Linked DNA regions of Homo sapiens. The protein of the gene in region 1 interacts with the protein of each later gene in a pairwise test. Each region holds a gene or a part of one and is shown on either strand. Other genes may lie near its edges.

Region 1 (3,500 bases):
TGTTGCTCCCTGGCCCTCTGAACCTTTATTCTTACATCCTTTTTATTTCTTTTTCTTTTTTTTCTTTGGAGACATGGTCTGTGTCACCATGAGGCTGTTTCCTTGAGGCTGGAGAGCAGTGATGCTATCATGGCTCACTGCAGCCTCGACCTCCTGGGCTCAAGATCCTCCCACCTCAGCCTCCTGAGTAGTAGGGACTACAAATGCATGCCACCACACCCGGCAAATTTTTTGTGTTTTTTGTAGAGATGGGGTTTCTCCATGTTGCCCAGGCTGGTCTTGAACTACAGGGCTCAAACGATATGTCTGCCTCGGTCTCCCAAAGTACTGGGACTACAGGCATGAGCCTCTGTACCCGACCTATTCTTACATCTGAGTCAAAGCTGGGCTAGCGAGAGACTCAGAGATCAAAGCCTTCCCTGGGCCATCCCCAGACCTCCGAGCTGCACCTGGCACCTGCCTCACCCATTGCAGTTCCCTTGGCCTGGAGTCAAGCCTGTACCCTAAGATCCAGCTTTTTCAAATACCCTATTCAGGGCCGAAGGGGTAATGACATCATGGAATGATTTAGCTTGGTGAGGAATAAGAACTCCAGGAAACTGTGATTTGGAATTTGATTCAGTGAAATAAAAAGGAGGGGTTGCGCCTTATGTTTGGGCATCTCCCTGCAGGCTGTTGCCTGATGCTTTCAGCATTCCTGTGTACCAGCTAAGGAGCAGGAATTATTGATAACCTGTCAGGAGGGATGTGGAGTTCACAGAGAGTAAATGGATTGTACACAATTAGGTTAATAAGTCCTTGTAGAACCAAGATGTCCTACTTTTATTTGAAGAAATCATTCAGAAATGGGCTCTGATACCCTGATACATTTTTTAGGAGTCATTGCCCCCTGTCTTGCATAGTAAAGGCAGGCTTCCATGCAGTAAACTTTCACTGGGCTGTCCGTTTCTCCACTGCCTGCGAGGCATACCCAAGTCCATGAACAAGGCATCCAGGCCCTCATTGCCTTGGCTGTTGACTGGGTCTTCCATCTTCCTGGGCTCTCTGCCTACCCTACTCTGTCTCTCATGTCTCTGGCTTTGCCTACTCCACCCCTTGACCTGACCTGCCATATCACCTGGCTGACCTGTTCCTAGCACAGATAGCATCTCCTCTGGGATGCCTGCCTGCTCTCTCAGGGGCTCCTCCTCTGCGTGCCCATCATACCTGTGCACCTCCAGCACGCACTGAGTAAGGGGCTTGGTAGTCTGTTTGGTATATATCTCTTTTCCTCACTAGATAACAAGTCCCTTGAGGGGAGGGGCCTGCATTTTATTCATCTTTGTATCTTCTGCACTTTTCATGACTTTAGACACATAGTTCCAGCTCAACCAATGTTTATTCAGTGAATGAATGAGCAATCAGGTATTTATGGGATGTAAAAAATGCAAGTGGCTCATGACTGTAATCCTAGCACTTTAGGAGGCCAAGGCAGGCGGATCACCTGAGGTCAGGAGTTTGAGACCAGTCTGGCCAACATGGTGAAACTCCGTCTCTACTAAAAAAAAAAAAATACACATACACACACACACATACACACACACACAAATTAGCTGAGTGTGGTGGCGTGTGCCCGTAATCCCAGCAACCCAGGAGGCTGAGGCAGGAGAATCACTGAAACCCGGGAGGTGGAGGCTGCAGTGAGCTGAGATCATGCCACTGCACTCCAGCCTGGGTGACACAGCAAGACTCTGTCTCAAAAAAAAAAAAAAAATGCAAGTTATAGGAGATTTCTAATACAGGACAATAGGTATACTTTTAAACATGTTGTAATAGAAGGGAAGCTCTGAGCTTGCTTATTAGCTCATGGACTTTTTATTCTGATGCTCAGGGCTTGTGCAGTATGTAACTGTGTGGAACTCCTTCAGGGGCCTGCTTTCACACAGTGCATCCTGCTGTGCTCCTAGGTAGCAGCAGTTGCTCATTTTATGCTCTGCCCTGTTGGTTGGAGTAGAAATGCTCTCTGCTCTTTGTAGAACTCTAGTGTCCTCTTAGAAGATGAGGAACAAGGTAGAAGAGGGATCCACCACTCTCAGAAAGAATTCTGTAGAATTAGGAGCTGAACCACAGGGCCAAGTGCCTCCTCCCAGGTGGACCCACTGAGCAGATAGCAGCTGCTACTGTTCCTGCTGGGAGCTGGTATCACTGATAATGATATTCATCATATCACTGATGATGACATTCACCATGATGACATTCATAACCTCAGTCGTACTTTGAGCAAATGTGGAGCCCTACTTATTTTCAGAGTTTATTCTCTTAGATTTATTTTTTTATTTTTTTAGACGGAGTCTCGCTTTGTCGCCCAGGCTGGAGTGCAGTGGCACGATCTCAGCTCACTGCAAGCTCTACCTCTTGGTTCACGCCATTCTCCTGCCCCAGCCTCCCAAGTAGCTGGGACTACAGGTGCCCGCCACCACACCCGGATAATTTTTTTTTTGTATTTTTAGTAGAGATGGGGTTTCACCGTGTTAGCCAGGATGGTCTCAATCTCCTGACCTCGTGTTTCACCCGCCTCAGCCTCCCAAAGTGCTGGGATTACAGGCGTGAGCCACCGCACCTGGCCAGATTTTTTTTGTTTTTGTTTTTTTCTGTCCTGGTCCTGTAGAATCAGAGGAAGTGGAAAACACATATCAGGTATATGAGCACCGTGATCACGATTATTACCTCAGAGGAAAACAGGTGTACCCCTTTCACCAGCTGCCAACATAAATGGAGCTCTGCAGACATTAACAGAGGCTGTAGACTGTCTCCCTTCCCTAGCAGGGCTGGTGCTTGTCCTGACCCACACAGACGGCCTTTCAAGTTAGACTGGGAGTTCATTTTCTGTAAGTCAGACGGCTATTTGAGAAAGCTCAGTGGACCCTCTTTTTCATAAATATGCGTGGGCTTCAGTTTTTCCATCCATAGAATGAGGAAGTTGTCATAGATAATCTGGGGATTTGTTTCCAGCTTTTACAATTCCGCAATTTATAGTTCTCTGTCCTTTCATCGTTCTTATTTCAAATTCCCAAATTATTATTCTTATGTTTGTGGGCATGGAATGGGCAGTGAGCCTCTTGTCCCACAGCTAAATCACACCCTTTATTGGAAAAACATATATGTTGGAAAAACAGCTCTCAATTGTGATGAAATAAATGACAGCAACTTTCAAGGCCAATAACTGAACAATTACAGGAAAGCATTGAATCTTGTGCCAGCATGGCTGCTCCAACTCGAGATGGCTGCGGTACAAAGGATATTTATACGTTGGGCTTCAGAATAATAATTCAAGTGCTCAAGAGCCTCATCTTGTGATGTTATCACAAGAATGTCCAGACAATGTTTTCTTTAACTCCAGGAAGAGTGATTTAGAAGGACGGATCTTGCCGCATGTGTCCAGCTGCATATTTATTGCTCTTGGAAGAGAATTATTCTGTAAACACAGAAATATCCAAGAATGAATTCTTGAAAGATGATCT
Region 2 (3,500 bases), on another chromosome or scaffold:
CAGTGCCCTTTCCTGCCTGGGAAGCCCACAAAGATTTCGCTTTTCACTTATTACTCATCAAACTGACTCTGGTTCACAGTGGAAAAGAGAAGAAAAGCTGATGGAGAAATGGCAGTGAAGAAGGAGAACAAAATGTCAGAGCAATACTTTTGAGCGACTATATCCTTTTCATTAAAGGTGTCAACACGTTTATTTGCATCTTTGACCCTAGGACTAGGGAAGTGCTGGAAATTATGTGGGTACTTTTTCCCATGGGAAAAATGTACCTCCTGGGTCGGGGGAAGGCTGAAAATAGGTGAAAGTGAGAATACTCAGTTGATCTTCAATTTTTTTTGTCTTATAATTAAAAAAGTGCTGTTGAAAGGAATAGGGTTGCATTTCACCTAGAATCAGTGCCAAGTATCAACAGCTAATGTCTGTCTTTTGAAGAAAGAATCTTTCATACCATGGGGGTTTTAAAGCTACTGATAAAACAAAAAGCTATTTTCTGAAGACCAGCCAACCTGAAAAACAAGTGTTTTAAAACCTAGAGAATTTCCTTTAATGTAAATAATCAAAGATGTTTTCAATTATTTTGCTATTACTTACATACAATGGTTTTACGTTTATGAGAAGTGCTATCCCTGAAATAACAATAATATGATCATTTATAAGTGGGGTGTGGAAAAATAACACAAGCATACAGAAAACCAGGAAGGAATTTTTCCAGTAAAAATTAAGCAATATTCACCACAATTGGCTCACATTGTGGAACTGGGAAGAACAAGAAAATAATAAAAAGAAAAATAAATCTTTACTGAAATGTAGTGATAGTGTTTCACTCGCAACCGCTTCTTCAAATTGAGATGCAGAAGAAATGTGTAAAAAGCAAAACTGGTACAAATCTTGATTACAATTTTGGATCAGTTTAAGACAATATGGCTCAACAGAGCAATTTACATAGGCTAACAGAGCAAACTTGAGTTGGTAATTTACTTTATTGGATACACATTTCACCTACAAAAAAAAAAAAAGAAAGGAGGGAGGCAGGAACAAAAGCAGAAAGGAAGAAAGGGATGTAGGGAGGGAGGGAAGGGAAAAAGAACATAAATCCAGGTTTGAGATTATATATAGAGCAGCTATTATCTCCCAAGTAAAGATTTGGCCATAAATTACAAATTAATTTAGAAGTTGTGTAATTTGGATTTTCTTTTAGCGTTCAAATTAAAGTCAATATTTATCTTTTTGCACATTGTTTCTTCAAGTCTGATCCTTTCATGTTTGCACTTTATGTCCCAACTTTATTTTCTACTCAATCAAGCATTAGAAAAGAGTAACAGCTTGTACAATATCACAATGCAATTGAAAAGTGAAGTTTTTCAGTATTTGCAGACATGTTAATTATATTCCAATTTTTGTAAGCAATAAAGAGAAAAATACTTGAAACTGGTAATATGCAGTTTACATAGCAAAGAAAAGGTCAGTGAAGAAACATCCTTCACTGACCTCTGAAACAAATATTATAGATTTTACACGCAGGAAACTTATTACATGCAAACTTTCTTTTGTAAGCATTTGTATTCTAAAAGTTGCAGCCACCTCTCTGCATATGTTAGAGGTAAGAATAAAAAAGTTTTAAGTTCTTAAGCATTGAAAATGATAATTGAATGGTACAGAGAGTTTCATTAATTGACCTTAGAGATAGAAAAGAAAATTTAGTTTCAAGACCCAAGTTCATCTAATTGTTGTTTAGTATTAACATTATTGGATAGTAGTATTACTATATTGTTAAATTTTACTTAAATGGACAAAATTGACTTTACCATTTAAATGTCTGCTTTAATTTTTAAAAATTCTAAACATAATAAAAATTAAGTCCATCTGGTGAAATGTAAAATGTTAACATAAGACTTTCCTATAAGTATGAATGAAATATTAAGTGAAGTTTTTTAGGTCAATAAACAATACATAGTACAAATTCAATTTTGGTCAGTCTGGAACTTACCAAAAGAATACTAGCACCAGTATGTATAAGAAAGAATAATCCTTAATTAATCTGTATTTTTTCTAGTATACCATCCATCCATAATACCTTGGGGAAAAAGTATTCTCAATAAAATTAAAGCAGTAATAATTTCACACTCCCAAAATACATAAATTTGTTGAAGCAATCTGTCAGTTTCAAAAATACAGGCATTCACACCCACAAAAATGACTTTTTTTAAGAGTATATGGGAATTATGCTTCACATGAGTAAAACAGGGTTAGGTTAGCCCCAGTGTTTCATTTTTATATGTAAGGCACGAATATCAGTCTAAATTGACAGAGGGCAATCTTCAAATGTGTTATGAGAGCCAGTGTCCCCTCTCCCTAGACCACTTGCATCACACATCAATTTGAGCATATTTTAGGTAAGCAAATTATTATTAAATCTACATTAAATACTTTTTGGAACAAGGGATGGTATAAACAAACCTCTATGTAAAATTAATTGTTTTGATGCTATAACGGTGAAATATTTGTGTGTTTTAAAATCTCCATATAAGAAAACATACATGGAGATACTGTTAAGCCAAATGCATGCACACATACTGAGCACTGTCTGAGACATTTGCATTAGTTTTCTGATGTACAACTTTACAACACTTCACATGGTCGAAATGTACTTTGAAAAATAAAAGACCCATTGTACCAGTAAGGGAAATTGTAAACAGCTTTTTACTGCACTTCTAATGCTATTAAAATATAGAATGTGTGGTCTCTTCTCTCTTCTACTAGTACTTTAGCAATGTCAACTGGAAGTGCATCCATGATCACTTTATCCAGCTGTCTCTCTCTCACTCCCAGCAAACTCTTAGATATACTTGATAAATATTTTCATCTAATTTGGTTCATCTGTTGTTTTTATTAACAACTAATTTAATATCCTCTGTTCTGCAATATTTGCAAAAGTCAGTCTATAGACGTGAAGCCAACAGGGACCCTCAGGCCTGTGCATCAGGATGGTGGGCTGCCTAAGTCCTCTGGGGACAGCAGTGCCAGAAGGAGTATTGGACACAGTGACCCGACTGTATGAGATGAGAAAAAACAAAAACAGGAGGTCCGCAGTACTGATGAACTAATCTGTCACTCACAAGCTCAGGTCTGCAAAAAAAAGAAACGAAGCACTAAACATGGCCATAAGAGATGGAAATGCAAGTCTTCATTTCTAAATGATAATCAAACCAACGATCAGAAACTGATTAACTGTGTAATTGAATTGAATTGAAAATCATCCCATGAATAACAATCCATCCTACCTTCAAGGGGTTAGGAAGCTAACTACAGGTAATTGCTATCAGAAATCTGATTTGATTTCCAAAAATTGTGTGAATGAACCAAGTTTCTTCATCTTGATATACTAGGCAGGGAGTTTGTTCTTCCAAGTACTAGACTGCTTAATTGCTTGCTTGGGGGAGGAGAAATCCTAGGGGAAAGGCATATATGAGCAATTTCTACTCTGTGAAGCCAGCGCTGTGTCC

What was found.
Region 2: the proteins of FHL2 (region 1) and POU6F2 interact in binary tests that used the Homo sapiens proteins (3 or more experiments, as listed by UniProt).

The regions. Positions count from the first base shown.
Region 1 is NC_000002.12:105,389,052-105,392,551, reverse strand, and holds part of FHL2 (four and a half LIM domains protein 2), read left to right. Parts: intron 1-2,324; exon of another isoform or gene 2,325-2,445; intron 2,446-3,500. UniProt on the Homo sapiens protein: May function as a molecular transmitter linking various signaling pathways to transcriptional regulation. Negatively regulates the transcriptional repressor E4F1 and may function in cell growth.
Region 2 is NC_000007.14:38,980,909-38,984,408, reverse strand, and holds part of POU6F2 (POU domain, class 6, transcription factor 2), read right to left. Parts: exon of another isoform or gene 2,903-3,500; intron 160-2,902; exon of another isoform or gene 4-159; intron 1-3. UniProt on the Homo sapiens protein: Probable transcription factor likely to be involved in early steps in the differentiation of amacrine and ganglion cells. Recognizes and binds to the DNA sequence 5'-ATGCAAAT-3'. Isoform 1 does not bind DNA.